Linked DNA regions of Homo sapiens: all the other regions are reported to be linked to region 1. The links are microRNA targets in miRTarBase. Many come from high-throughput screens and were not tested one by one. Region 1 holds a microRNA gene; each other region holds the end of a gene's coding sequence.
The links. The annotated mature microRNA hsa-miR-4665-3p reads CUCGGCCGCGGCGCGUAGCCCCCGCC and lies in region 1 at 5,060-5,085, opposite strand. An mRNA with a match to its seed (bases 2 to 7 or 8) in the 3' UTR can be bound and repressed. Matches are read on the target gene's strand: a 7mer-m8 pairs with bases 2 to 8, a 7mer-A1 pairs with bases 2 to 7 and ends in A, and an 8mer does both.

Region 1 (7,888 bases):
CCATGGCCAGACAGACAGTGGGGATTGTGCATATTTGATGACATCATAGAGCACTGCAGTCCAACTTCATTTAAATATGTAGAATATTTTCGGTGGCCAATGCTACTAAATATGCGAGATAACAACCCTGAAGTCAGGCAAGCTGCTGCTTATGGCCTGGGTGTCATGGCACAGTTTGGTGGAGATGATTATCGTTCTTTATGTTCAGAAGCTGTTCCACTTCTGGTAAAAGTTATTAAGTGTGCAAATTCCAAAACCAAAAAAAATGTCATTGCTACAGAGAACTGTATCTCAGCAATAGGGAAGATTTTGAAGTTTAAGCCTAACTGTGTAAATGTAGATGAAGTTCTTCCACACTGGTTATCATGGCTTCCACTGCATGAAGATAAAGAGGAAGCTATTCAGACTTTGAGTTTTCTCTGTGACCTAATTGAAAGTAACCACCCAGTTGTAATTGGTCCAAATAATTCCAATCTTCCCAAAATAATCAGTATAATTGCAGAAGGAAAAATTAATGAGACTATTAACTATGAGGATCCTTGTGCCAAACGCCTAGCTAATGTCGTGCGTCAGGTACAGACTTCTGAAGATTTATGGTTGGAATGTGTATCACAACTTGATGATGAACAGCAGGAAGCCTTACAGGAGTTGCTAAATTTTGCTTGAAGCACTTTAATATAACTTGAATATTATCTATTATAAAAGTAACTACAAATAAGTGTTGTGAATAGATTTTATTATAAATCAGAGAACTGTTTTCTCCCTGCTAAGCAGTTTATAGTTCTTCTCCATGTTTCTCCAGAATTAATCAGTGTTAGTCCTCTGTTTATCTCGCATGTTTTATCTTCCAAACACAGACCTTGGTGATAACCTGTGCTTCAAACTGTCTTAAACAATGTTTGTCACCTTTCCCCTAGTTGATGTAAAGTATATAAATTGTTGCTATTTGTTTGAACTATTATTGATGCTAGCCAAGCAGTATACTTGATGTGAAGATGTCATGCTATCACAATATGCTAAGAGCTCACAAAAATAAGATAGAATTTCCAGGACAAACATCTTTGGAATTGTGAGTGAAGGATATAGTGGCAGGCTTGTCCCTCTTTAATTAATACTCTTGGTATTTGTGGTGATGGGAGGATGCTGTTACTAGGAGAGTTTTGAGATACTGCAGTGGATGTGGGATGTATATGAACTTCTTCATAATGTACTCCTGGGAACTGGGTAGGACATATCCATATTGTAGTTCCCAAGGTGTCTGGTTGAGAGTTAGAGAACTTTTAAATTTCTTTAGCCAGACAGGTCTCTATTTTTTTAAGTTATCCAGGACTCCAAGAACCATAGTTACTGAAAAGGGAGTCCTGATACATCTAATATTGGTAGCATGTAACAGTGTTTGACAAAGAGTAAGTAAGCAGTATTCTTGGGAGTCAGTGTTATGTGTTTCAGCAGAGTATTATTTTGTATATGTATGCCATTTTCTCCCTGCAAAGCAGCTCAACAAGAGAAAAAGCTCTAGTTATAGGGCTTAAATTGATTTCTATTTCAAATAATTTCCTAAGAGATTCTAGAGTAGAACTGAAGAGTATTCTATTGGAAAAGTGAAAGGAAAGAAATGTAATTTTCTTTGAACATGAAAAAGAAAACAACTTTGAGAGTAGTCATTTAGCAGTAGATGTGCATTATTATGAGAAAACAGTTCTATAAGTCCAGGGTTAATTATATTAATTGGAATGTCAGTCTTTAATGTCGAGCTTATTGTAGGGTAGAAAAGAGCTTTCTACTCAGCTAACGATTACTCATTGATCCAAAACTTAAATACATCTATAATTTCCTGGGGCTATTGTGAGTACTGTGTATGTATTTAGCAAATATTTAAGACCTAGTAAGTGCTCAATAAATTGTAGCTGTTATTGCTGTTGTTGTTTGTACCTCTATTGTGTCTGGAACTTCTTTTACTTTAGAATTTTCCCAATCCATTCCCTACTCATTCATATTGGCAGGCTATTTAGGCTATTGTTGACAAGAATATAAAGTTGAGATTTTAGATATGCAATTCTGTCCATTCCATGTAATTATTACTAATGGGGGAAAAAGGAAAATTAAGGACATTATGTATAGTATGATCACAATTTTTAGTATATTTAAGATAAATAAAGTATAGAAGAATGAATAGAAAAATCCCACCTCAAAGTATTAATAGAGGTTTTCTCTAGGTGGTAGGATTAAGTGGCAAATTTTCTCCTCACTTACCTATATTTTCTAATTTACCTACATACCTACAACCAACATATTTCTTGTTTTGTTTGTTTGTTTTGAGATGTAGTTTTGCTCTTGTTGCCCAAGCTGGAGTGCAATGGCACGATCTCGGCTCACTGCAACCTCCGCCTCCCAGGTTCAAGCAATTCTGCCTCAGCTTCCCGAGTAGCTGGGATTACAGGTGCGCACCACCACTCCCAGCTAATTTTTTGTATTCTTAGTAGAAACGGGGTTTCACCATGTTAGCCAGGCTGGTCTAGAACTCCTGACCTCAGGTGATCTGTCCACCTCAGCCTCCCAAAGTGCAGGGATTACAGGTGTCAGCCACCGTGCCCAGCCCATATTTCTTGTGTAATAGAGTTTCTTTTTTAAGATCAAGGACCCGATCCTACTTTCATTATAGTTAAGTTGCTATCATCTTGACCTCTTCATAACCTAGAGTTGAGGTTCCTTCTACTCACCCACACCTTTCTCTTTTATATAATCTTAATTAAGAAACCCTTTATCAACATTTCTAGCAATTCCCTACACTTTTATGTATGAGGAATTAGAAATTCTGCCAGATGACTTGGAATTAGGCACCTGGAGTTTTTGAAGTATGACAGACCTAGATTTTAACTTTGTTTAACAACTTTCTTAAACTAAGAGGCAGTTTCCTCATCTGAAAAATAAGGTTAATACCTAGCTGATAGGCTTGTTGTGAGATTAAAGGAGACAATGAATATAAAGTGCTTAGTGGCACAGGGTTCAATAATGTAAGCTAATATTGTCCAAGAGTCATGAAATAGAGCTGATGACTAAAGAGGAGTAGAGGATGTTTGCTTGGGTACGTTGGGCTTCAGATTCCTGGGCTTTGTCGAAAGAAAGGAGGAATGTCTAGTCAGACACACGTTTTGGTTGCCAGGTGCTGAAGTAAGACTGATCCCTGCATTTTTCTTTCTGTGAGCTGAGGTTCTGTGGACTCTTCAGAGTCCACAGACTCTTCTCTGAGGGGAGAGAACCCTGTAAATGCGTTATATATTACAAATGTCTGATGAGAGGAGACCTCGAATACTAGATAAAAGGTATGTGTGGAGGACAGTGTGAATACCCTAACAGAGCGTTCCCGCTTCACTATTTTACTTAAGAGTGATACTTAACTTACTGGACAAAAACAGCTTTGAGGTTAAAAAAAAATTTTATCACTGCTTTAAAGTTCACATTAATGAGAAGTAAACAATTGCAAGAGTCAGAGTATCCTAATCATTTAGTTATACACATTTTACTTTTAAAATGCATGATTTCTGTAATTTTGTTTTTGTGTTTAGGTAATTCTAGGTTTTAACGAGGGTTCTGTGTACCTAGAAAAAATAATATGTGCGTCTTTCAAATAGAACATGAGGAAATAGTAGTATTTGCTTTATGGAACCATGAATTCCTACCTCCCAACTAATTTTAAGTAACATGTAAACCAATGTGAATGATGAGTCCACTTTTTAGTCATTAAACAGTAATTGTAAAATGTAGTGAGATTATCAGCCCATGCAAACAACTGTTTAATGCTGTACAACTCAGACATGAACTATTTTGACTGTTTTCAGTCCCAAGAATTTGTTTAAATGAGGTTCCATTCTCTTTATTCTTAACAGATCTCAAGAATCGGGAGGGTGGAAATTTGTAACTGAAAACATGGAATTAGTTCCAAAATATGAATTGATGTTAAGAGCTGGGGTTCTAAAAATCACTTCCTTTTCTTCTGCATGTGAACGTATGGTCGAGTCCTTAAACTTTCTTTCTAAACTTCTCAAAATTCTGGTTATATATAGAAGACCCGCAGTCACAAGGGAGAAAGGGTGGGAACAGAATGTAAATTTTATAGTAGAGAAGATTTACATTTTGCGCTTTCTCACTATTCATTTGCCATTAACAAAGGTTATCTAGCAACTTTAATTTTAGTTTGGGGGGCTAACACGGGTCTTGCAAAAGAAGTTTCCTCTTGAAGCACTTGCTTTAAAAAAAGCCTTTTGGCCACCTTCCCAGGCGGTAGCGAATTAAGCTGCGCAGGCGCCTTGCTTCCCCCTCCATCAACATGTTCGATTGGCCTACGATTGATTACATCATTGGTCCGCGCAACCCTAGCAGGCTTCTGGGCCTGTAGCTGAGCCGAAGCTCTTCCTTTTGCGTAGCGGGGCGGGGCACGATGGTGGCGGGGGGGGAGGGGGGAATTGTTCTACTACGCATGCGCACCGGGGATGGCGACAGGGCCTCTTTCTTTGCTTCTCTCCACAGCTCTTCCCAGCCGGGGGGCTGAGTGCCCTCCCCCTTCTCTCCCTGCCCCTCCCCTTTCTCCCCCCTCACCGCCCAGCGGGGCTTCTAACTGACAGTTGTCGCCGGGCCCCGTCCGTGCACCGCCTCCTTCTGCCCGTGTCCCCCGCAGGTAGAGGGGGGCGGGAGGGGGTGTGAGGGAGAGGAGGAGCCGGAGCCGCCGCTGCGGCCCCCTCCGGGGAGGGGAGAGGAGAACCCCCTTCCTCCTCGCCCCCTCCCAGCCCCCCGCTGGCCCGGGAGGGGGTGGGGCGCCGAGGCCGCGGCGACCCGGCAGGGCCTGGCCGGTGAAGAGCAGGCGGGCGGGGTGCGGAGGGGTGAGGCCGGCGAGGGCCGTGCGCGCGCCGCCGCCGGGGGGGAGGGGAGAGGAGGGCACCTAGGCTCTCCTCTTCTCTCCCCCCTCCTCGCGCGCCATGTAACCCCGCCCCGCCGGCGGTGAGCTCAAGACCCCCGCGCGCACCGAGCCGAGCCGGCGGCTGAGGAGAGCCAGGCCCGATGTGGCGGGGGCTACGCGCCGCGGCCGAGCCGTGAGGAAGCGGCTCGCGCTCACGCGTCCCCCAGCACCTCGAGCGGCTGTTCCACACCGCCCAGCCTAGGCCTGCCGGGGCATGAGTGTGCCCGGGACGCCGGGAGCGATGGAGCCGGCTGGGGAGGAAGAGCGGCCGCCACCGGCGGCCGAAGGAGAGGACGACGAGGAGGAGGTGGCAGCGGCGGCCCAGACCTCAGGGCCGGCCCACGGAAGGAGTGCCTCCTCGCTGGAGGACGCGGACGATCAGGAGGAAGAGATGGAGGCGATGGTGATCGGAGGCGGTTGCTGCAAGGAGCAGGAGCTGACCTACGAGCTACAGCAGGGCTACCGCATCCTGGGCGAGTTCCTGCAGGAGAAGCACCGGGGCCTCACCGCCCCCTTTCTGCAGCCCTTGGGGGGCGTTGCCACCGCGGAGGAGGAGGTGGCGGAAGGGCCGCGCAGCGGGGGCCGGGGCGGTCGCGCCTTCCCGCAGCAGCCCGGACAGGGCATGTGTCTGCTGCAGATGGAAGAGAAGTTCGCCAGCGGCCAGTACGGGGGCATCACCGAGTTCGTGGCGGACTTCAGGTTGATGCTGGAGACGTGCTACCGCCTGCACGGAGTGGACCACTGGATCTCCAAACAGGGCCAGAAGCTGGAGATGATGCTGGAGCAGAAGTTAGCGCTTCTCTCTCGGTAAGCGAGCCCGGTCCCCGGTGGGACTGACAGACTGACACAAACACACACTCACACGTGCCCGAGGATGGGCTGGGCCAGGGGCCTGGGGGCGGCGCTGATAGGTGCTGAGTCGGTGCTGGAGAAGCCCGGGAGGAGGAGCGGCGCTGGGCGGGGACCGGAGGGGTGTGGTGGGTGTGGGCCGAACCCGGCTTGCGCGTAGACTGAGAAGGAAACCCGAGTCTGCAGCGCTGAAGAGCTGGGTATAGTTTGCAGATGTAAAATGGAATGGGTCCCGTAGGAAGAATTGCACGTGTAGGCAGAGGAACAGTTTTTGTGGGATGGAAGTTGGACCTGCAACTTTTAGACAGTTTTAGCATGACATTTAAAACAGCGTTTAGGATGAAATATCTCTAGAAAAATAATTTTGGCTTATGTAAAAAGGTGTCTTAAACCATTAAAAAATAATTTTATCATTTACTACCCATGTCGGTCATCGAAGATTTATGGAGTGTTACTAAATGGTTAATGGTTACTTTTGCATACTACTGATCTTTTCTCTCCGTTTCATCTGAGGACACCCAATTTTTGCAATAATAGGGAATGCATCAACACACATTTTTTAAAGTTTATACATTTATGTTTATTCTACCAGAAATCATAGGCAAGTCAGATGATACTGTGCTCTTGGTATCCGCCACCCATATATCCAATTATTTAACACAAGAGGAGGATACTAAAATGAATGTATTGTTTTATAATAATTGTATAGTCTGTGTCAGCCAAGTTAATTTCTAAAGTTTAAATTTTTCGGGAGTGGAAAAATTCAATGTTTTTGGTATTGGTAGTTGAAGTGGAATAGTAGTTTGACTGTTTACTATTAGAGTGAATTTAAGTTGAGCAAGTCACTTAACCTTTTTGGCCTCAGTTTCCTCATCTATCAAGCGGGGATAATAATAGTACTTCTCTCATAGAGTTGCTTTGAGGATTTAATGAGTTAATAAATGTGAAATCAACAGTGCTGCTCCCATAGTTAGCCAAGTATAAGTGTTAGCCATTTTAATGTAAGTAGTAGCAGTCGTTGAATAATATGAGTGTATACTTCATATCTGAAACGGCATTATACTTGTGCTCTTACAGAATAGCTCCTAGAAATTGTGTTAATTTTTTGGTTCTTGATTTGTCACTGTAATTTAAAAGTAACCTTTGTCATTGGCTTCCCATATGCCATTTTCAAGACTAACGGTGATTTTTTTCACCAAAAACAGTTAACATAGTGCCTGTCTTCGTTAAGTGAGCTCTCTTTAAGGAACCTCTTCTTGAATCCTTTCATAGAGTAGGATTATTTAGTAATAGAATAATTATTCACATATTTGCTTTGTAAATTACTTTTAATACTTTAGTAATTTTGTATTTCTGTAGTGTGTTTGTTACCCTTGTCTCCACAGTGCATTATTGCTGTGACTCACATAAAAAACAATCCATTCACGTTATTATTTTGAAGTTATGAAGTATCCTCCTGATTGATGTCACAAGATTTTAGACCTGGAAGAACCTTAGAGTTCATCTAATCTATCAGATGTGGGAATAATGATTTAGAATGAGGCAAGAGAATGACTGAATGAAAGTGCTAAGAGATAGCATATGGGTTTGAATTACTGGTGTTTTCAAAAGCTCTGTGTGTAATAAACATTTATTTATTTATTTTATTTTCTCTGAGTCTCCCTCTGTAGCCCAGGCTGGAGTCCAGTGGCGTGATCTCAGCTCACTGCAACCTCCGCCTCCCGGGTTCAAGCGATACTCGTGCCTCAGCGTCCCGAGTAGCTGGGGTTAGTTGTCACCGCGCCCGGCTAATCTTCGTATTTTTGGTAGAGATGGGGTTTCGCCATGTTGGCCAGGCTGGTCTCAAGCTCCTGACCTCAGGTGATCCGCCCGCCTCGGCCTCCCAAAGTGCTGGGATTACAGGCCCTAGCCACCGCGCCCGGCCTATAATAAACATTTCTTAGTCTTAAAAAAGAGCAGACTAAGAAACTACATAAAGGTAAATTTCTAAATGCTTAGAATCATCATTCTCAGTCGTTAATGCTCAGAATACTTATATTCCCATGTGATCTAATAGTATCCATATTTAGAAATTAAACTTACAAC
Region 2 (7,888 bases), not on the chromosome of region 1:
AAGACCATTTGCTTCACAGCATTGTTGGGAGGATTCAAGGTGTGAAAGTTAACTACAAAGAGATTTATGAAACCAAAGATATTGTTACTTTTAACCACTGTGACTTGAAGTCAGGAGTTAGTTAGGTATTGATTACATTTCTCTTTATAGCCAAACAACATGGGGGTAGGTGGAGTGCAGATATTCAATAACTGCTTTGTGGCCTTTTTTTTTTTTTTTTTTTTTTTGAGACAGGGTCTTGCCTGTTGCCCAGGCTGGAGTTCAGTGGTACAATCATGGCTCACTGGAGCCTTGAACTCGCAGGCTCGAATGATCCTCCTGCCTCACCCTCCCCAGTAGGTGGGCTACAAGCATGTGCTACTGTGCCTGGTTAATTTTTAATTTTTATAGAAGCAGGGTCCTGCTCTGCTGCCCAGGCTCGTCTTAAACTCTTGGCTTCAAATCATCCTCCTGCCTCAGCCTTCCAAAGCATTGGGATTACAGGCATGAGCCACTGCACCCAGCCTTGGACTTACTTTTAAGTAGGAAGGAACTTCATTGGTATTTGGGCCAACCTTTTACCTGATAGAGAAATAAGGGTACTCAACTAACAAACATTCCCTGACCGTCTACTATGTCACAGCAGCAGTATTGGCTCTGCTATATATGCTTCCTCTCAACCCTACAGCTGTCCTATTTTGCAGACAAGGAAACTGAGCTTTAGAGAGAATAACTACTTTAAGGTCATACAGTCACCATCTAGTAGAATCCAAACCCTCGTCTGTCTGTTCTAAAGATAATACTTTTATCCTTTACTCCATTACCTCCCAGCGGCTTTCCCCATTCGTGAATTGGTTAGAAAATAGAGGGTCTCACATAGAGGTGTCCTGGATTGCTCCTGTCACTGCAAAGCCCCTTGTTTTACGGGTTCTAAGGTAGCCCATCCAGCTCAGCTTGGAGACTGTCTCAAGCTGTTCTGGAGGGAGGGGGTGAGGAACCCATGAGGACAGAGCTATTTTGGGGGAATCCCACAGGCCTTTATCTCAGGGTCAACTGAAAACCAGCCATGTCCAAGGTGGGCGGATCATGAGGTCAGGAGATCAAGACCATCCTGGCTAACATGTGAAACCCCATCTCTACTAAAAATACAAAAAATTAGCTGGGCCAGGTGGTGGGCACCTGTAGTCCCAGCTACTTGGGAGGCTGAGGCAGGAGAATGGCATCAACCTGGGAGGTGGAGTTTGCAGTGAGCTAAGATCGTACCACTGCACTCCAGCCTGGGCAACAGAGCGAGACTCTGTCTCAAAAAAAAAAAAGAAAAAAGAAAAGAAATGAAAACCAGCCGTGTCTCCTGTATTAGTCCATTTTCATGCTGCTGATAAATTTTCATACCTGAGACTGGGCAATTTACAAAAGAAAGAGGTTTATTGGACTTACAATTCCACGTGCCTGGGGAGGCCTCACAATCATGGCGAAGGTGAAAGGCACGTCTCACATGGTGGCTGACAAGAGAAGAGAGCTTGTGCAGGGAAGCTCCCCTTTTCAAAACCATCAGATCTCGTGAGACATATTCACTATCACAAGAACAGCATGGGAAAGACGTTCCCCCATGATTCCATGAGACCTCCCACCGAGTCCCCTCCCATGACACGTGGGAATTCAAGATGAGATTTGGGTGGGGACACAGCCAAACCATATTACCTCTGGAGCCCCTAGAAACCCAAGGTCAGTCATTTAGGGCAACTGCTCTGAGCTGGAGAAAGGAGGATCTGAAGGCCCTTACTTGATGCTCAGTCACTGCAGCACCAGCCAACTTAGTCATTTTTGTTCTCCCATTTGCCAGCAAGGCAATTCCTTCATACATTATCTCTAGGGGGTAGCTTGCATCCTCAGTGATTATATACTTAGTGGTTATAATTTTATCAGCCACAGATGAAATTCTCAACCTGTAATCATTTTTATGTTTGATAAAAGTAGGGAAAATTGTATAATGAGGAGTAAGATGTTCTTCTGGTCCCCAAGCAGTCAGTCTGCTTTACATGCAATAAATGGTGTAAAATGCACTTGTGCGCACTGAAATTTGAGAAGTACTTTGGTGCCTATAAACCACAGGGGACCTGTTAAAATGTAGATTCTGATCATTTGGTCTGGGGAGCAGGAGTCTGAATCTGTAGAAGCTTCCAGGTGCTGTGGGCCCTGGGTGCACACCCTGAAGAGCAGAGAGGTTGGCCTTGGTGCTCCTCTATAACGAGAGTCTGAAGACCTTGTTCAATTCCATTAATAATTATCTGCTACTAAGGATATGCAAGATAGATTTAAATTGTTGAGGGAGAGGATCTTGTAAAGAGATAGTATCTCAAGGTCAGAGGCAGGCAATAACTTGAAAGAATCTCAAATAAATATCATGAATCTCTTAAGTTACAAACTTTCGTTTGATTTTTGTTTTTAGAATTTTCATCCAGGCACTAAACAAGTTATCTAAGGGGGAAATAGTGAGAGAAAGACACAGTAATTTCACAACTTCCTGGCAGAAACCCTCACTGGAGGTGGCTGAGCAGTGTTTTTCAAAATACTTAGAGAAGGGATCCAGTTTCGCATCCAGAGAGCCACACAGCAGAAGTGTTGTTTCTAGGGTTTTGCTTGTGTGTGTCCCAGATTCCAAGAGTCTCTTTAAGCCACATGATGCCATTGATTTTATGACACTACTCTCTTCCCAAGCAGCAATACCTATTATGACCAAATTTAATGATTTCTATTATATTAGCAACATTTTAGTTTTTCTAAAGTATAAATCACATATCTAAATCTGCCAATTCATCTATCATCTGATCGAGATGTTAAGATCATTCTCTCTCTGCCCCTAAATACCACAGAAGGAAAAAATGTTAGCACAAACACATCCAACGCAGACCTGTAAAAAGCACATGGCAAGATTCGGTACTACTCACAGGGACTCCTTGGTGACACTTCTTGGTCGTGTGGGAATCTTGAGCTTTGTGTACCAGGTCACAGCATTCGATGCAGTGGGACATGTCTTCAGGCTGACAAAGGCCCTGAAGTCTCTATTTCTACCAGCAAATGCTTTCCATCATTCTTTCCTTGATGTGATTGATTCAAGGGAAAAAAAAAAGACCTACAATGATATCAATAAGCACCAGGCACTAGTGTTTATGTGCGCCACTGGTGACAGTATAAATGAGCTTCTCTTTTTGTTTCAATCCACAAGTATTTATTGGTTCTGACATTCCAGACAACGTACTGCTCAAGGCACTGTGAGGAGAGACAGAGAAACAGATGGTCCCTGCCCTCATGAAGCTTACAATTTAAAGACAAAGACATTCTCTCATTGCAGCATAACCAGCAATTCCAAGTGGTATGTGGAAACTGTGTAGATGTGGTTGTGTCTGTTACAGGATTCAGATGGGGGCTGGATGAGGAGGATCTGAATGGGCCAAGAGAGAGGAAAGAGCTGTTCCATGTAAAAGCACAGCACAGAATGTCACAAGATCAGGAACACTCACAGCCTGAGCAGTGAGACTAGTTACCAGCCTCTGTGATGGATAAATGGGGCTGAGGTCCAAAGGCTGGTTGAAGCCCACTGTTGAGGCTAATGACTTTGACCTTTATCCTTTGGCAGCAGAGAGCCAATGAAAGGTATTTGAGATGCTGAGTGGCATCATGAAAGTGAATTTTGGAAGACTAAGCTGGAGTTATGTAGAATTGAGTGAGGAGGTATTGTTAAGTATTGAACAGAGCAAATAATTGAGATACTGTGACTCTCTAAGCTGAGAGTCTGTGATTCTAAAATAAAATACTAGCAGCCATGAAAAAAAAAGAGAAGAAACTTAGGGAATGACTGCAATGATTCATGGGAAGGGAAAGGAAGAAGTTATATATATATTTTTTGACTAATTGAATGCTATTCTTTACTGAATACTGAATCTCTCAAGAAAAACTAAGACTGGGAACAAGGAGGCCAGGTCTGCCAGCTACCCCATTCTCGCCCTGCCTTGCAGTGCAATTTCCAGGGTAGGGGGAGGTGGTCTTTCTCATCCCTTTAGCTTGCTTACTCCCCAGGCAGCAGAACATGTGCCAAATAGATAGACAGGATCTAGTTCTACTCAAACTAGTTATTTACTGCAGCAGGCAATTTAAAAGGATGGAGGAGGTCTGAACAATTATGTACAACTTTGGAATCACAGGCAATACATTCAGAGTCATTAAGAGGAAGCAATTTTAACTACTGCCTCCTCTTCAGAACCAAGTAAAGATTCTGCATTAAAAGGTCGCTTAAGTTGACTGACCACACCAAACTGTGGGAACCAGGGGCTTAACAGACAATCAGGGAGCTACTAATAAATAAACCAAATTAAAAAATTAGCTCTAAGTGCTTATTCCCTACTAGAGATAATTAGTCTAATACACTTGCTCACTTGCTTTTGTCTTTCTCAATCCAATTCCAGTTTGTTGGCATAACTTTAGGGATTCCTTATTGTAGAGGAAAATAAAATAAAATGGACATTCCAAACATAAGCACTTGTTACAGGCAAGTCCATTAACTAAAATAATTATAATAATTTCCAGAACATCTTTATTGTTGTGCTAAAGTAATTGGTTTACATTTATAACTAAAATGACCTTTCTCACATCACTAAGATGTTCCACTCCATCAACAGCCATGCGTATCACAATTTTACCACCCAAAATCTAATCCCGTGTCTTTGTATCTGACAAGTCAAACAGAGCAAGGAAGTACTACTAGTGGACTCAAGTGATATAAAAAAATAAAAAATAAAATACTTCCATATACAGTGACTGGACTCTTAATACAATGGAAAAAATACTTTGGTGAAACACTGACATTTAGTGAGCCCCTATCGTGAGCCTTTGGGGTTGGAAAGGGGAGACGGGGAGTGAGTGGAAAGATAACTAAGACTCAGGCCTCATTACAGAGTCATTCACAATCCATGTTCCCACGTAGAAGGCACACCTTTGTGTAGCTGTGCACAGTTAATAATAGGGGCAAGATGTGTTATAGCAGAATTACCAAATGCTATAAAAGTGGCATGAAACAAAGAAGTTACTTCTAATTGGGGTAACGGGAGTCAAACTTACAGAATTTGGGAGAGAGCAGTAACATTTAGCTTGAATATTTTAATTTAAACACATTTAAAGCTTCTAGACTCACAGGTACAATTTATATTATAAAGAAGATGTAGTTTTATATCAGTTATAAATTAACCAAAGGAGCTCAGATATTACTGGGCCAGCCAGGAGGCCAAAGAGCTCCCAAGGCTCCAGTGGTTTTCTTAGCTCATTTCCATGCAGGTGTCAAGGCCTCTTCCAGGTAAATTCAGATTGGATTTGGACACAAAACTCCATGGTCAATGTGCTCCAAATTTGCTGAATGTATCAACGGAAAAATTGATAAGACAATACCACCAAAATGTTAACCCTGGGTACCTCTAAGGGTAGGGCTACAGGTGACTTTAAAATTGTGTATGTATTTATTTGTATTTCTGTTTATATTGTGAATTTTCTCAATGGACACATAGTATTTATTTTTAAGTCTGTTTTCTTGACTATATGTTATTAAATATGTTTTCCTGATTGTAAAAGTAACACACACACATAAACACATCTTCCAAGACAGTAATATAAAATTATAAAAATGAAGAAAGCAAAATCCCATGTACTCCACTCCCAAAGATAACCCCTGCTAAGATTTGGGTATATTTCTTTCCAGATGTTTGCCTTATGCATCTGGAAGGCATATCTATTATGTGCATAATCAGAAAACTATATAAGTTGTAGATCAAAAAAGGAAGATCTTTTCCTGCTTCTCTCTTTTAAAATATCTCTGTTGACAGTAAGACATCAGTGATCTTCTGACTTTGTCCTTTTATTCATGGAACACAAGCACCAGGAAATGCCTTAAACGACTCAGACAGACAATCTGTGGATTGTAACGTGGCGGGGCCCAAGGGCGTGTTTTGGACATTTGGCTAGGACAAGTGGCTGGTACAATGGCCAATTAAGAGGCACTTTTATGAGGAAAAACATACTTTCTGCAAGATAGATCTCTAGTGACCGATCCACCAAATGCCTTCGCTCTACTCTGTATGTGGCATCTGCTGCTACTTTGCTGATGCGTTAAATGATGTCCTATCTCCTGGACACACAAGCTGCCACTGGGAAGGGGCTGGGAACCTACATTGCTGGTGTCACTGATACTAATGGTGTGTGTAGGAGTCTTCCCCACCTTAGGTCTTTCTTACACTTCTTCAATAAGACTTTCTATAAAGGCAGAGCAATACCAGAGCAGAGCGAAAGCCCTGCAAACACCAGCCAGACGCAGGGGCCCGAGGAGCTGAGGAGCTGAGGCGCCGGGGTTGGGGAGAGTAGGACAACATTCGGCCAAGGCAGCCACATCCTGTTCCTGGACAGCCACAGTGGCAATGCGCCAGGAGGACGCGGGGATGGCTCCACACCCGCTGCCAAGTCAAACACGGGGCACTCCAGGCAGAATGAGGGACTAATCTTCCCGACTGGTGTAAGTAAAACCTCCTGGTGAAGGTCACAGTCTTCAAAAGCAGACCGAGGCAGAGGCATCGCTGAGTCAGCAGTGAGAGATGGGAGCGTGGAAACTGGTCTCTTCATGGAGGAAGTGACCTGTTTATGAGCAAGAACAAGGCCAGGAGAAGGCCCACTCCCCGCAAGCTGTGAGTTGACTCATAGGGGCCATGGGACTGTCCCAGGTGATGTGAGCGATCTGGAGCAATACCGGTGTACTCTGCTTTTGTTTAAAATGAATTAAAATGAATTAGGGGCTTGGGGAATGAGCCAAATGGGCAATAATTACACGAATAGGCCATGTCTTCCCAAGATGCCACCTCACTGGCTATCGAATCTGTGAAGCCGCTGTCTCCTCATTTCTTCTGGTGAGAGATGAAACCCGTAGGGTGGTGGGCTATTTCTGGTATTTCCTGTAGTGAGAAAGCCAAAGGAAAAATCAATCATTCTGACGTGACAAGGCATGTGTACCCTAGGATTCCAAGGGAACAAAGTGATAGCTTGGGTGTCATCTTCATTTTAACACAAAACAGAAATATAACAAAGATTTTTCAACTTCAGCTGTCAGTACTAAATTTCAACGTCAAGTAAATATTTTTAGAGTGGTTCAGCCATGAATCTGATTTGACTCATTTTGAGGCTTCTTGATAATCTTCCCACTTGTATTTTTCCTTCCATCGTGCTCCATAATTTGCATCATTTAGGCTTACACAGTATCTCAAGGGCTTATTGTCTTTTTTTTTTTATGCCCATATATAACTTGTTGCCACCTTTACTAACTTCCCCACCAACTAGGCTGGTTTGGCTTCTTCTGATCAGCCTTTGGGTGCTCCTTTTCTTCCCTCTAATGTGCCGCCTCCTGCCCCAATGTGGCCAATAAGAATCATGCGTGATTGAAACACACAAGCAACCACTGGAGCAGAGTTACCATACTGATCAATATCTGGGCAGGTAAACAAAGATGTAGGCATCATATTTCAAGATCATATGAAGGACTGTGGAAATCGTTACTGAAAAGAGTTTCTTAGGGATGCAAACTTACCAAAAACACAGTTTGTAATGATACAAGAATTTCAATCACTACATAAGAAAGCATTCTCCCAGGCATCATGAGTAGTAATAAAGGGAGAAAAATACATAGTCCTTGATCTCAAGGAACCAGCAACCTAAAGGTAATGAAAGAGCTTCAATATTCCCCATGAGGAAACCAGGAAGACACATCACTGATAGATACGGGTAAGTAGAGGTTTACTTCTAAGCATGGGGACCAAAAAGGCTGTACCTTTTCACTACTATAGCTCTGCTAACCTTGGTAATTTGCACTGAAAGGCTCTCT
Region 3 (7,888 bases), not on the chromosome of region 1:
AGTCTTCCAGGGCTCATTGCACCAATACATAAATTCATCTTTAATTACTTTGGTAAACAGCACAATCCAAAATAACTCAGGATTCTGGTTACAAAAGCAACATCTAGTTCAGGTGGGGTTTTTTGGGAGGGGTTGCGGGTGGGGGACTCACAGACCTTTCTAAATGTGTACTAAGTTATTTTATTTCCAAAGAACATATTGTGTGTTTCATTGTTAACACTTGTCTGCAATTTAATACCCAAGTATATTCACAGATATCGTGGGGACCTTCACACCCAGTTGGATCTATGCTTTTACAATCCTAATGCAGCAAATAGAAACTTACTAATCTTAGGTTCTGCACCTAATGGTGATCCGAGCGTCACAGGGGCTCTGGGTTTGCTGGCTGAAAAATGCAATTTAAAAAAATGCCTGAAGTCTGTGCACATAAACACGACTGCTGCTTCACCAGACTGAAAGGAACACAAACAGAATGCCTCAACCTACTTACAGTGGTTCTGAACATAAACTGACTGAATTTTTTTTTGAGACGGAGTCTCTGTCTGTCGCCCAGGCCAGAGCGCAGTGGCACGATCTCGGCTCACTGCAACCTCTGCTTCCCGGGTTCAAGGGATTGTTCTGCCTCAGCCTCCCTGGTAGCTGGGACTACAGGTGTGCACCACCACGCCTAGCTAATTTTTTTTTTTTCATATTTTTAGTAGAGAAAGGGTTTCACCATATTGGCCAAGCTGTTCTCGAACTCCTGACCTCATGATCCGCCTGCCTCAGCCTCCGAAAGTGCTGGGATTACAGGCGTGAGCCACCACACCCGGCCATTTTTTAAAAATAATGTAAAACGTATGGGAAGAAAAAGTTTCTGGGAAATAGTGAGCTCTTTCACCTACTAAGGGTTTAAAAAGATGCTGCCTCACCTGCACCAGAACAACCTCCTGATGACAAGGGTTCTTTACCCAAAGCTGTCAAGGGAGGAGCTGAAACTGCACATCCTCAGACCACAGCAAGGCAATCCCTTTAAGGGCTGTTAGTTTCCCAGGAACATAAAATTCTCATCTGCCAGAGTGGACGCTTCCTCAACCTGACCCAAGAGTAGCTACTTGTAGAAAAACCATCTGCAGGATGTGTTCATGAAATTTTCAACTTAAAGATGAAATGTTTCAAGCTTAGTTCATGAAATCTGTCTGCCCCACTCCTAATTCATCCAGATTTTCAGACTGAATTTCCTATTTCCAGCTATGTTAGTATGCTGTCGACTCTGTGGGAAATGACCTCAGGTAACAAGTTTCAAAGAACAGGACTTGACCAGTGACAACGATGGGAATGGGAGGAGTAACTACAATCGGAGAAATTATACCAGCCCAATTTCCTTAAATGTCTTATAAGTCACTTGAAAATGGCTTTGCCTTACCAGAAAAGTTTGCATATGTATATGCGTGGTTTGTATAAATGTGGAGTTTCTGGTTGAACTTGCTCTGAACTCATGACTTACTTAAATAGCCTTTTACTACTCCATTGATCTCACCTATTTGATTCCTCTAGTACCAACTCAGTAGGAAAATCTCACCAGCAAATCTTAAAAGGAAGCCCTTGATCTTTGCCATCTCAAACATCTTCATTTAGCTGACATGTGCCTCTGTTCTTTCCAAAAGTTTCCTGTTCACAGTTAACCAAAGTCAAAGAACTAAACTTCACAAAAAGCAAATGCAATGTCTACCAAAAAGATTCAAAAGAGTTGAAATCTGAATGCGCCTGAAGTTACGGTATTTAGCACTCTGACAATCAGACCTTGAAGGATTTAAGGATCAGTGACCGCTGCGTTCTGATGTCACCTCCCTGATCAGCTAAAGGGAGTCCAAAGAGGAACACAACAGTTCACAAGGTGGAAGGTGTCTATTTTGTGGTCTGGAAGCAAAAAACAGTGTGTCCCAGGTTTCCAAGCACCTGCCCACTTACACTCAAGACAGCCAGGACCACTCTGTAGGAGGGGAGGCCGGGACACTGCAATGAGCCCGGATTGTCAGCTGTTCCCAGCCCCTTGCCTTAGTGACTTCAGGCAGCACATCCCTGATTCCAGGAGTCCATCGGGTCCTGGCATCTTGGGGACTGGCTGGACAAACGCTGGACTGCAAATAATCCGTGTTGCCAGTTGAGTTTCCACAAGTCACAGCATATTCTTTTAATCTACAAACCTGGGTCCTATTGTGTGAACCAAAAATGCAAGTTTGATTCAGTTCCATGATGCCATTAATAAAAAAAAAGAAATCACATTTCCTCTCTAGGGCTGTTCCTTACACTCCTGATAAAGAACACATGGCACCAATCACTCTGCCCCACAAGGCTCCAAGCCACAGTGCTCCAAAGAAACACAGAACTGAGTAGGGGAATGAAAGATCTTAGCCTACTAAAATAGAAACCGTTGTGCTAGAAAGCTGAAATATGGAAACCTGTGAAATGACGTATGAAGAATCCGACACTAATGCTCCTAAAATGAACTGAGCAGGAAGGCTGTGGGCGGCCTCCTTGTGGACAGGCTCAAGAGCCACAGCATTCCAGGGAAGCCCTCACCCCTCGGTCAAGGCAGAAGAAAGGACACTGCATGAGGGGACGGTCAGAATGGAAAGCCCACCGCACACCTGAGAGGAGAAAATCCCCTGCCCCTACAGCTGAGGTTTGTGGATAACAGCAACTACCCCCATTCCCAGTTGCTCCTGAAAGGCTGCCTGAGCCGTGGCTCTTGCTGCCCTGGACAGAGACTTCCAGTGTCTCCAGAGCTCAGTGGGTTTCCAGAGTCCACCGTACACTTCCTGGAGCAGGATCCTACCCTCCCTAGTTAAGTCTTGGAACTGGCTGACCACCTTGCTTCATAAACCGGAAGCTTCCCGGGGAGAATATTGTTTCATACAAACTGCCACATTCCCAGCCCATGTTTCTGAAGCTCTAGATAGGGACACATTTCATCCAACATTCCCTCACCCAGTGATCCATGGACACACTTGCCAATAAGGAAGAAACTAGACTCCCTCTCTGGTGGAGGACAGGGTCATTAACTCAGCTGAGAACTTAGTTTTTATCACTAGTGCTAGGTAACGTGTTAAAGTTATTGCATTTTTAAGGAGAATGACCTTCACTTACTCAAGTTGAAGCAAATATTGCTGCAAAAAAGCACTGACTGCATTGCAGGGATTTTGTTTGTGGTGTGTGTGTGGTGTGTGTGTGTGTGTGTGTGTGTGTCTTCCTTTCAGGAAATACACTCTTAAATACTTCCTCACTCTGGTCGTATTGCCCTTTCCTTTGAAATAACTTTTCAAAAACAAAGAAAACCTATTTTTATTACCTTTACATTTCACTGCATAATGTTTGCTATTAGTCTACAATGAGAAGTTGGCACTTTTATAAAACAAAATGGACATTCAAAAGATTGCCAGTGCTAATGCTTTGGAAAGGCTACACACATTGGTGAAATACTGGGCTGTTTAAAATATTTTACCAAATTATGAACATTTGACGCACTAGTCTCTGAGACTGGGAGGAGAGCAAAACTAGGTTTCCTTTCCTAGCAGCCATACTGGATGCTCATTATATTATGAAATAGTTTCTTTTAAAATGAATCATTTGAACTTTAAAATATAGTTTTGAAAATCAGTAATGGTGTTATGACAGAATAGAAAGTCTTCTGTACATACCACTAAAAATCTATTTCTCTTGTTTGAGTCCAGATTTAATGGGTTACCATTTTAAAGGATACTAGACACAAAGATCTCTGTTTGAATCATTATATTGGGCTCCTCATTTAATTTTAAGTAATTCAAAACAATTCAAAATGTTGCTTTATTGCCCCACAAACAAGCATTTTCAAACAATGTTATAGCATATGTATACTGTCAATATCTTAAAAATTAATGTATTTATAAATATATCGGAAAAATATGGTTATGCAATAATGTACTTTTAAGAAATGGTATATCAGACCAAGATTACCTGATGATGCATCAGAAGGCTTCATAGCTTTTATATTTAGTAACAGAAAAATTGTTTCATTTTATCATTTATTTTTCGTCAAAGTTTTTATAAGCATATATGAATTAAGTATTCATTAGTTCATTGATATGACCATTGACCATTTTTAAAAGTCTAAATTGTAATATGTTAACTCCTGATGGCTTGCTGTCAATAAATTATTTTTTTCCTATGATCAGTTTACTTTGGGAAACACTGCCATAGTCAAAGGGATATCTCCAACCCAAAGTTCAAACTAAATACTTCCATTGTGTAAGATGCCACATTTTGAAGCACAGAGAAATATCTGGCAGCTTTGTAGTTTGAAGCCAATTCAAACGGGTGCTATGTTTCAGTTGCACTGATGTGTTACTATTTTTTTAGGTGAAAGAAGGCAACAGGTAGATTCCCCTGCCTGACACAATGATAACCGCACTTTTCACATTTTCGTGTTTATTCTAAACAAGATTACTGAGAGTCATATAAAGCTTTACCTTTACCCAAAGGGGGTTTATTTCAAGTGGCAAAAGCTCACTAAAGTCTAAATGCTTTATTAACTATAATTGTCAGCATATTGTGTTTAAAAAACACTACTTCCCTAGAGCAGGGGTTGGCCAGCCTTTTGTAAAAGGGCCAGATAGTAAATATTTTACACTTTGCCATCTGGTCTCTGCTGTGTCTACTCCACTCTGCTGCGGTAGCATGGAAGCAGCACAGAGAAGACAGAAATGAGTGTGCACGGCTGTGTTCCAGTAAAACCTGATTTGTGAACACTGAAATATATATTTTATATAATTCTCACGTGCCACCAAATAGTACTTTCTTTTGAATTTTTTTCAACAATTTAAAAATGTAAGGCCAGGTGAGGTGGCTCACGCCTATAATCCTAGCACTTTGGGAGGCCAAGGCGGGTGGATCACCTGAGGTCAGGAGTTCAAGACTAGCCTGGCCAACATGGTGAAACCCTGTCTCTACCAAAAATACAAAAATTAGCCAGGTGTGGTGGCAGATGCCTGTACTCCCAACTACTCTGGAGGCTGAGGCAGGAGAATCGCTTGAACCTGGGAGGCGGAGGTTGCAATGAGCCAAGATCGCACATTGCACTCCAGCCTGGGCGACAAGAGTGAAACTCCGTCTCGAAAAATAATAATAAGAAAATTAAATTAAAAATAAAAATGTAAAAACTATTCTTAGGTCACAGGCCCTACAAGAATAAGCTGTGTGCCAAATTTGGCCCATGGGCCAAATGTACGTATGCCCAGCCCTGTTCTATCAAGCAACAGTGAAACTGTCCCTCCTTAGAGACTACCATCCCTAAAACGACTGACTGTACTCGCCATGTGCTGGAAAATGGGAAGACTTAAAAAAAGGGAAATCACTGAGGCAGAGTCAAGGGGCGACAGACCTTACTCGGGATGCCCTCCTGCCCACCCATGCACAGAGGGCCACATCATCCTGGCATCCACAGCCAGCACAGCGACCAAGGCCGTCCATACCCCACCCAACGGGCCTGCAGAGGTGGCCATCTGCGTCTGCGCAGCACTGACTCGCTGGGCATGCCTCCTCTTCCATCAAGTCACCACTCCCCACTGTGGCTCTGAGAGGAACAGAAAGCCACTTTCCCATCCCCCATCCCCTGCGCTGGCAGTCCAGCGACTAAAAGGGCCCAGCTTCTCTGACTGCTAATGGCCCGGCAAGTCTCCTAACAGTGTGCTCTGCCTACACAAAGGGCGCCGGGGCGTGCGTGCCCGGCTCTCGCAGATCACAGCCAGGGCCTGCCCGAGGACTGGCATTTCAATTCACCAAACGTCTTAATTCGGAGGGGGACGGAACACTTTCTACAGAACATTTTAAAGCACATGGGAAGTTTGGGCCCTTTCGCAGTAGAGAGGAAGGAACGAAGGGGAGGAATTTGTAGGCTGTTGTTTAAGGATTGTTAAAGTGCGCACATCATCAGCTGACAAAGATCGGCCGACTGCCAATGCCTCCCCAAACTCACGAAAGCCAAAATTCAGAGTACAGCGTAAAAGGGGGTGCGAGTGGCCTTTACTTTTATAAAGGACATTTGTACACAATGTCGCACAATAAACAACGTCAAGTCTGGGCACACATTACCCACATCTCAGTCAAAAGAAAAGGGTGGCCTGGCCCAGCCCCGAAGGGTTTTCTCTGAGAAATAGGTTGGGGTGTAAAGGTCCCACGCGTGCACCCACAGTCCGTGGCACCTTCCTCTGGTGCACCGTGGCAGGACGCTTTGTTCTTTCCCTAGGGGTCTCCAGCAAACTGCAAGGGCTACAATATGATATTTAGAGTTAAAAACCAATCCCAAGGCCTTAGAACCATGCCCGGGAGTTGGGAGCCTTTTTCTTGGAGGCAGCTGCTCCGGGCCTTGGAAGTTTCTTCCTATTCTGACGCAGGCTGGGAATTCTAGAGGCCTTGTAGGAAGGTCAAACGGACGAGAAGACTGAGGTCAGAGGCTTTCGGAGCATTGCCCGGGCTCTCTAAGCTCGCTCACTTGTCTGCGGGGGTGCGAGTCGACGGTTCAAAGTCTCCCTCCTTTCCCTCCACGCGCCCCTCACGCCAGACTCGCCACGCTCAGCAAAGCGTCCCAGCAAGTTCCTTGAGGCGGCAGCCCGAGCTCCACGTGCTAATCAACCCCGCCCCACGGCTCTTCGAAACTCTCCAGGCTCAGAGCGCGTCCGCAGGGCGCGCGTAGCGCAGCGTGTAGTTGGCGCCCGCGTTGTTGTCCCAGTACTCGCCCTGCGCGCAGCGGTAGCAGACAGCGAAGTGGACCGCGACGCCGCGCTCGTCGGCGTCCTCTTCGTCCTCAGGCTGCAGGCCCGGGGGCAGGCACAGCGAGAAGTGGAAGCACTCGGCGCCTGGCTCTTTCTTGGCATCCCCGGACCCTGGCTCGGAGGCCCCAGACGGTGCCTCTGGCTGCTGTGGCTCCAGCGGCTCGGGCTGCAGCTCAGCCGGCACGTCCAGGAAGGAGCGCCACTCGGTAAAGGTGTAGCGCACGGTCACGGCCCTGGGCCCAGGGCAGCTGAGCACCCGGCCGGAGCCCTTCACCTCAGCGCCCGAGGCCGTCGAGCACTGCACGCGCTCCAGGCACACGCGCTGCCGCTGCAGACGCTCGGCCGCGGCGCTCGGCCCCGGGAGCTGGAAGAGCGGCCGGAGCCGGGAAGGCGGCGCTGAAAGGGGCGCGGCCACTGCCGCCGCGGCCAGCAGCCCCCCGAGCTGCTCCAGGTCCTCGGCACGCATAGGGAAGCTTCGGAGGCGCGAGAGCACGGCGGGCGGCACCTGCGGCTCCTCCGCCTCGCTGAAGTGCTTCACGCTGGCCAGGCTTAGCCCCAGCGTGTCCGCGAACTGCACCCGCTTCTTGCACTTGGCGCAGCAGCCGCCCGGGCCGAGCTGTGCGTCCTCCGCCCCCTCGCCGCCCAGTGCCACCGCCTGTTGCTGCTGCTGCTGCAGGAACTTGGCCGCCTGCAAGATGGGGTCGGCGGGCAAGGAAAAGGAGCGCGCGCGGCAGCGGCGGCGGCATTCCAGCAGCTCCTCCTGCTCCTGGGGGGCGGCCTCTTCCTTCGGGGACAGGGGCCTATCCCCTAGCTGAGCGTCAGGACTCGGGGTCTCCGAAGCGCCACCGCCGTCGCCGCCACCCTGCACACAGGGGACCACCGGGGCGGGCAGCTCCTCGGCCGGCGGGGCCTCTCGGAAGGGCGCTGGTCCCGGCGCCTCCAAACTTAGCCGCGCCCCTATGGGCTCCATGACGCCGTTCGCCCCTGGACTTGCTCGGGCCGAACCGGGCCCCTCTGGAGACTTAACTAACTCCTCGGGCCGTGGAAGGAGCGCAGGGCTGCAGTTCAGGCTCGCCCTCCCCGAGGCGAGTCGCCCCAGG
Region 4 (7,888 bases), not on the chromosome of region 1:
CTGAGCCAAAAGGAATGGGTTTGAGAGCCAGATATCCACTTCATAAAAAGAGATCTTTTCTCCTTACTAATTTATCTCTCATATAAAAATAAATCACAAATAATCTTCACCCTTACTATGATTTAATTGGACTCCTTGTACATGACTGTCATCGCACTGTTAGCCCATTTTTTTAAAAAAAAACACGAAATTGTAGCATTCAGAAACTGCCAATAAAATCAGAATACTATTGACTATTGCAGACTCAAAGTTCACTTTTAAGCCTTTGCTAACCTCTCCAATGATAGTTTTTTTTTTAAAAGTATGCCTCTCAGATTGATTCTCTTTATGAAAACAGCACCCACCTTATTACATGCTGTGCATATCCTTTCAGAGATAAGACTGCCTCAAATCCAAATTACTTTAGTAAATCAACAAAATTTTATCCTGTGTGGGTCTTGAGAAAGGAACCATATAAAGCACTCCAAATTGTTTGGCTCAAGTAGGTTTTCAGCTTCTCACCTTGAGTCTGGAGCCTCAGACCACTCGGCCGTCCTGACACTCTAGGCTGTCAACTTCTATGCCCAAATGGGAAGGGAATTTACACGTTGGGTGAGCTGGTTGAGATGGCTGTTAAAGTATGCTCTACAGCTCAATATGGGTTTGCTGAGCAGACACTAGGTTCTCTAGTGGGGTCTCTATGATTGTTTCTTTTTCTCACTAAAAATTAATGTACTCAGAATGAACATTTATTGGAAAGGTTTTTTTTTTTTTTTTTTTTTTTTTTTTAGAGAAAGAGATAGGTATAGTGTTTCAAAGATGCCTCCTTGTGTGAATATACAAAACAGTGGGCCCATTGGACCAGTCGCATCTACCTTCTTCATAATTTACCACAGTACAGCTTGGTTACTGATGAGAGACTGATTTGTTTCTGAGATCAGCTTGAGGAGAAAAAGAAATGCCTCATCTCACAGTATGAAAAAGCCATCTAATATTTACTTCTGAAAAAACTGAGCATCTGGTTATACGAAAGGTTTGATAATTTTAATGATTCCCCCAAATTCAACCCTTTATCAAACCCATTTATTTAGGGATCTTAAGGTTAATAATATAGATATGTCCAGGTACAAGTTTATCCTATTTACATAAAGGAACATTAAAAATTCAAGATACCTTTTGTAACAGAATTAGAAGTTTAGTAGTTGAACATAGCAAAAGAAAATGTGTAATAGTCTATTAAATGTAACTTTTTTTTTTCAAATTGCCAAAAGAAGCGTTAATGACCAGTGAAGTTTTAGAACCTTGTAAATACAAGACTGCTAATGGGTCAAAAATAAGAAAATTTCATTTTTACATCTTCAAGAAACTTCTGAGGAATACCCATTGAGTCACTGTATAAAGCAGCATCTTCATAATTCAGCCAAAGATGGGAATTCTCTCAAATGAGAAAGACAGGCTGCGAACTGGGGTTGATGTCAGGGCTATTCAAAAGCCTCCGTCCATTTAAGTCAATAAGGTGAAAATGGTAAGCAGCTATTTTGTTAACAACATATAAAAGGAAAATGAAAGATGCTAATCCAAATCAAATTGGAAAATTTTTTACCTTGGGCCAAATGGAAGTTATATTAATTTTGCCTTTAAAAGGTGTATAATAAAGCACACCAGTTCATTGGGAACAAGTACAGAAAGATAAAAGAATGAAACATTTGTCCACAATATATGGGGCTGTTCGTAAGGACTGAGTTTGAATAAACAATAACAAAGTATCTTTCATTATAGGAAGTGGCTGTTCTATGCAAGTAATGGCAGCGTTTTACATTCCTAAAGTTAAAAATAATGAAATGAATTTTGGACACAGAAACACACACCAGTGGTCATACGTGTGGAAAAAAAAAAAAGTTAATTGTAGGATAGAATTCCTGAGACAGATAGACCCTGGATCTGATCTTATCAAGAAATTCTTATGGTCTTTTCTCCCCCCTTGGAATTTAGTTCAATAAAAGTTCCTAAAAACAAACAGAATGAATCAGAGTCACTGAGTATAGCCACAGGCTGGTGGGAAATGAGCTTCTATCCATCCCAGGTTCATCGAGGCACTTAAACCATTAACTGCATTTCAAAAAAAATCCCCCACATTTTTCAAAGGGTGAGATCAACCAAAAATGTGATCAGACCCCTCTCACCAAGAACCATTCAGACATGAGACAAACAGTAGCACAGAGAGGGCCCGAATGGTGCCCAGAGTTACACAGGTGCAAAGTGTATCCGCAGACCTTTTGTTTCTTTGTCTGCTTTGACTTGTTAAAGACGCTGGTTTTCATTCTCTGTGCCACAGGACCTAGGAAGTCTGCAAAGCATCTCTTTACAGCATTCTTTTAAGTCAGTGGGGACATTTTCAGCATTCCTTGTTTCTATCAGGTTCAGGTACCTAAAGCTTGTTGTTTACAAAGCATGGATGTCATCTCACTCTTCCACTTCCTCTCCAATGGTTGGACAAGCAGAGATTCAATTATTTGATAGGCTAGTGGCCAGTGACAATGCAGTGGAGGCCCACAGTATTGATCTTTGATGGTGTGTGCAATGATTTGATTTGGCGGGGGGGTGGATAAAGGTGATGGGGCTTGGGAAGAGAACAGGCAGCATAAAAACTGTCACTGCTCAAATGGAAGTTTTCAACTGGTAGGCCCATCGGAAGGTCATTTGAATTCCACAGGAGAGAGAAGTGTTCTCATAGAATAAGTCATTGTTTAAAATCAACACTTGAGGATACATAAGGCACTAAGTTAGTGTTAGTGGTACTGAAATCCAAGATATAGTCTCTAATTGTGTTTGTTTTCCTTTTTGCCTCTTGGGAAATAAATCCAGGAATGTTAATGGGGAGTAGTCACCCTGCTCCTCATAATTTCTGGCATGGACATCCACCAGAGGGTGTCAAATTAACCTGTTTTTGTTTTGCATTCTTTCCCTCCTGGAAAGTAATTCCTGGGATATTTAGGGGTGGGGGGGAATGGAGGTTGATAGTTTGTTTAGCACAGAAACAAGTCTAAAAGAAAGGAAAGCCGTCTCTAGAGGGATAGCTAAAGCATCCAAATGAAAGAAAGTTCTGCAGAATGAAATGTTCTCTTGGGAGACATGAACCCATTTCTGACACTCTTGGTATGGGGGTCACTTTTCTGGCTGCCACAGAAGGACAGTGTGGCCCCATGGAGTCACCACCGCTGCCCAGACTCCCCTGATTAGGGGCTTGCTGTGTCTGGTAGGCATCTGCTGCTGCTGCTTGGCAGAAAAGCCTGGGATGCGGCTCCTGGTGATAGCATTTTGCCAGGCCTCAAAAGGAAATGGCAATGATGGTCATTCCGTAATGGATGACATTCTCTTCTCGTAGCACATACAGCAGATAGTGACAGTGAAGGGGCCCCATGACACCAAGCCTATGAGTGTCCCATGGCTGTGGATGAATACTTCAGGGGACAACTTGAGAACTAACAAATTTTAGTTTATTTGGTTTTTTTTTCTCCCTTTAGATGTCCTTTTTAAAACCAACTCAGGTCGCTTTTGTTTGTCTGAGTGTGAACTTGGTAGGTTTGTCTCCACTCCTATTCTGATTCCTTCTTTCCTTTCTGTATTTATTTATTTTTAGAGGCAGGATCTTGCTATGCTACCCAGGCTGGTCTCAAACTCTTGGCCTCAAGCAATCCTCCTGCCTTGGCCTTCCAAAGCGCTGGGATGACAGGCGTGAGCCACCGCACCCAGGCTGCTTTCTTTTTAAAATCATCACCAAAGCCACGTTTACTTTATTGGGATAACTGGCAGAGTTATAACTCCCAACTCAAATATGGATTGTGTATATGGTAAATATTTAGAGTCTTAGGGACTGGCTATTATTGATGAAGAATTTCAGTGAGAATCTCCCAATTAGTCATAAAACCATGCTACCCTTAAAAATACAGCTTCCTTCCAGCTCTCTTGATCAACTGGTTAAATATCTAGTGAAGCAATACTTGCAAATAACAAGAAGGGAAGTAATGTGATCACTCACTGGATAACCAACATAGCCATTCTATATTAAGTAAATCCATTGGATAAGATTCACAGGCTCCTCGATCACTCTTTTGGCATTTAGAAATCAAGTCTCCAGAAATGAAAAAGAATAACTGAGTGTTTCCTTGCTCTGAAAATACATGTATATTATGGTCCTGAAGAACCAGCTCTAGCACGACGTCTAGTTTTGTGTTGATGTTATTCATGCCAAAGCAGCCCAACGCAATGTTCTATTGAAATGTTGACAATCCAGATCTCCACCAGGGTTTCTGTGGGGCTGTGCTCTTTTCATCCACATTTGCAACAGGAAGCTGTGAATTTGTTTTCCTTTGTGGATTCTGGGGGAGGACCTGGTGTTGATTCCATCAAGATATGACAAAGTTTATTTCAAGAAAAAGATTATATATTATAATGCTTAGCATTTATATAGGTTCTTTTGATTTCAAAACAAGTTATAAATATTTCCTACCGTGACAACATCCTTGCGAGGTAGGTGAGTTATTACCGTCTACATTACCAAGAGAAGCCCGAGGCCAAGCAGTGAGGGGCTCCGCTTTGAGTCACAGAGTCGGGAACAACATTGGAACTGGACATCCCGGCCACCTGCTGTGGGCTCTGAAGAGGCCATGCCTCTCCCTAGTGTAGCAATGGTCTCCATTAATACAGGGGTATATATTGTATAGATATAAAACAACAACACACAATTACGTTATAGAACAATAATTCAATATTTCTGCTTCTTAGTAAAATATGTTAAGCACAGTATTTAAATTGCATTTCTCTGAAAAGCATTTGGTATATTAAATAGCAGAAGGTATATTAAATAGCTCTAGAAACGTTTGCTGGCATACTCTTAACAGCATAATGATTCTAAAGAAATTAAAATCCACTGACGCATAGAGATTTTTTCCTTTATAATACCATAAACTGAACAAAAATGTGAAAAACTACTTTATTCCCAAAATGCAGACTTGATAGCTTGCTGGATATTAGCAGGTGGCTACATAATTTTTCTGAGCTTGAGAGAAAGGATACATATTGCTGACTGTGATTTTTTTTAAATACCAATTCGGTAGGGGAAAAAAGGATTCAGTTGAAAGGTGAAAATGAAAGACTGCTATTTCCACTTAGTATCCATTCTGAAAAATTTGTATGTTTTCAAAAGATGTTATCATAGTTAGAAGTAATGTTGAGGTGAATACAGAAAATGCTATATAATAGGAACATTTTGTGAGAAGAGAAAATGATACCAAATAAAACTTATGGTATAAGAAGAAAATGAGCAAGACAGAAAAGGATATTTTTCAAGGGTGTTGAAGGCTGGCATGAGATGTAAGCTATTCATGCTTAGCTGACTGTGTAGGTCTTGGAGACGATTTACAAGAATAAACACTTGGTTTTATCAGTCTCTTCTCCAAGGCAAAATCCTCACCTTCCTCTCTAAATCAACAGTTCTCAGAATGGTGTTAAAGAGCCCACCTCATGCTAAGCTTCCTAACAACTGACCGGGTAGGTCAGCAGAAAAAGTTCTAAAACTAGAAAGGAGCAGGAATGAAAGTCTTAAAATTTGTATGCAAACGTAAAAACTAACTTCTACGCCAGAATGACATTCTCTGTCAGAGGTAACAAATACAAAAGTCTTAATTTTAGTGTACACGACGCTAAGATATTGTTAGATAGGTATTATGTGTTGTTCAGAGAATATTTTTTATAAGTGTGCTTTTTCCCTAAAAAAAGAGACATATTAAAGTGTTTTTTCTCTCCTCAAGTCCTTTATGTATAAATATGAAATACAGAGCTGTCCTGTCAGTTTCTTCATCATGTTATACGTTCCGGGGATCCTTTCCGCCTGTGTCGTCTGTGGCAGTTTTGTTGGAGAGGGGTTTGAGTTTGAACAGGCTTGAGCAGTTCGGCTGTTTGGTTGGCTGTAAGGTTTTGGCATACGGTGAATACCAGTCCCTTTCAAACACATCTTTAAGTTGCTTAATGATGCTTCTGTTGTTCCTCACATCTGCCTGGTTGATAACAAGGCCCGTGCCAGCATTCTGAGTGAAATCATTCCCTACCCAATCAAAATTTCCTGCAAACAAACAAAGAAATAATGTTGAGGAGTTAGAGTCCACTGGGAACATACCCAATATAATGAAATTCAGAGTGGATTCTATTAAAAATCATCAACATCCAGGAATAACAACGGAGAGGCTGAATTGTGTTGACAGCTCCGAAAAAAAAATCCAAGAAGCCTTACATATGGCATATTAATATTTGCATATTATTTTGGCATTTTCTTCAGCTTTGCTCCGGTGGAAACTCAAAACAAGGAATCTGCTGTTCTTTCTTGTAAATGTTATTTCTTATTGACATTCACAAGCCACACTAAATACAGCAACATTTAAAATATATAGGGATTCATTTAAAAATCCTGTGAGTAATTACTACCTTCTCAAAGAGACAACATCTAATCCATGTGAACAAATGAGGGATTCTAATTATAAGTCCCTGAAGCTTTCACATCAAAGAAAACGCTGAAGCCAGAGGAGACTCAGTTCCTAACAAACACTCGATTGGACTAGAAATCATTTCCCAGACCCAGGATCCGGCCCCTTGGCCCCAGGAAGTGGGGCAGGTGCTATGAGAACAGCCTCTCAAGTATGACTGCCCGTGTTATGTGGTGTATTCGTGTTTTTAGGGCTGCCATAGCAAAGTTCCACAAATTGGGTGGCTGAAACTACAGAAATGTATTGTCTCACGGTTCTGGAGACAAAATCCAGGTGTTGGGAGGGTTGATTCCTTCTGAGAACTGTGGGGAGGGATCTGTTCCAGACCTTTATCCGTGGCTTGTAGATGGACATTTTCTATTTTCTTTTTATTTATGCTTTTTGGTTCCTTTTTTTAATTTTTAAATAGAGATGGGGTCTTGCTGTGTTGCTCAGGCTGGTCTTGAACTCCTGGGTTCAAGCGATCCCCCCACCTCAGCCTCCCAATATGCTAGGATTACAGGCACGAGCCACTGTGCCCGACATCTCTATGACATTTTCTGTCTCTTCATATTGTCTTCCCTCTATGCATGTCTCTGTCCAAATTTCCCCCCTTTTACAAGGACACCGGTCATATTAGATTAGGGGCCACACTAATGATCTCATTTTAACTTGACGATTTCTCTAAAGATCCTGTCTCTCAATAGAGTTACATTCTGAGGTACTGGGGGTTAGGACTTCAACATATGAATTTTGGAGGGACACGATTCAGCTCATGCAAAGGAGTAAGCCTGGGATCTGCCCTAGAAGAGACTAATCATGTGTATGCCACTCCCATGTAGTCCATCTTCAAGGTGTGGGGGAAGCAGCAGCCTTGGAGAGCTAGAGTAATGCCATTTTCAGTTCAGCTCCATCTTGAGACTAACAAGGCATGTTCCTTGCCAGTCACAACCATGGTCATAGATGTTTACAGTTGAGAAAACAGCCTAAAGATACCCCAAAGGATACAGTCCTACAGCAGTGGAAAGTCCAGATGTCCCAATACCCATAACAGTATGTGCTTTCGGGATAGCTATAGTTATGCTTCGATGTACTTTCACACTAGAATGTCATTACACCAAGAATGTTTTCTTTAAATCGATAGAATAATAAATTTTGTCATGCTGTCAGCTCACTCACACATAGACACAGCTTAGCTTAGCTTTTACATAGATAAGACTCCTATATAAGAAAAACACACCACATCCCTCCACTTGCTTTCTGTGGACGCCCTACTCTGTAGCTGAGTAGCTTTATTCTTCTTTTTCTTTTCTTTTCTTTTTTTCTTTTTTTTTTTTTTTGAGATAGTCTTGCTCTGTCGCCCAGGCTGGAATGCGGTGGTACAATCTTGG

Region 2: the mRNA of RHBDD1 is a reported target of hsa-miR-4665-3p. Seed matches in the 3' UTR shown: 7mer-A1 at 6,392-6,398.
Region 3: miRTarBase lists PPP1R3G as a target of hsa-miR-4665-3p. Seed matches in the 3' UTR shown: 7mer-m8 at 5,961-5,967.
Region 4: miRTarBase lists PLD5 as a target of hsa-miR-4665-3p. Seed matches in the 3' UTR shown: 7mer-m8 at 526-532.

The regions. Positions count from the first base shown.
Region 1 is chr9:6,005,068-6,012,955 of GRCh38, reverse strand. MIR4665 (microRNA 4665) reads right to left here and starts at 5,130; the gene lies at 5,052-5,130. It overlaps BRD10 (bromodomain containing 10), which reads left to right and starts at 4,474. Exons shown (of 8, transcript NM_001017969.3): 1 at 4,474-5,761. The coding sequence starts at 5,169. It overlaps RANBP6 (RAN binding protein 6), which reads left to right. Exons shown (of 1, transcript NM_012416.4): 1 at 1-1,931. The coding sequence ends at 666. RefSeq lists silencers at 4,407-4,926, 4,977-5,206, 5,397-5,556, 5,947-6,006 and enhancers at 4,444-4,943, 4,944-5,445, 5,577-5,806.
Region 2 is chr2:226,994,508-227,002,395 of GRCh38, reverse strand. RHBDD1 (rhomboid domain containing 1) reads right to left here. Exons shown (of 9, transcript NM_001167608.3): 9 at 3,186-6,965. The coding sequence ends at 6,874. It also overlaps a transcript of COL4A4 not described here. Among named protein-coding and RNA genes, the nearest start is that of RHBDD1, 160 kb to the right of the region's middle. RefSeq lists enhancers at 6,438-6,939, 6,119-7,318.
Region 3 is chr6:5,085,356-5,093,243 of GRCh38, reverse strand. PPP1R3G (protein phosphatase 1 regulatory subunit 3G) reads right to left here. Exons shown (of 1, transcript NM_001145115.3): 1 at 3,757-7,888. The coding sequence starts at 7,758. The coding sequence ends at 6,682. All of the region lies in intron 3 of LYRM4-AS1 (LYRM4 antisense RNA 1), which reads right to left. It also overlaps a transcript of LYRM4 not described here. Among named protein-coding and RNA genes, the nearest start is that of PPP1R3G, 4.0 kb to the right of the region's middle. RefSeq lists silencers at 7,152-7,381, 7,412-7,461, 7,602-7,701 and an enhancer at 6,932-7,621.
Region 4 is chr1:242,084,011-242,091,898 of GRCh38, forward strand. PLD5 (phospholipase D family member 5) reads right to left here. Exons shown (of 10, transcript NM_001372062.1): 10 at 1-6,100. The coding sequence ends at 5,844. Among named protein-coding and RNA genes, the nearest start is that of MAP1LC3C, 89 kb to the left of the region's middle.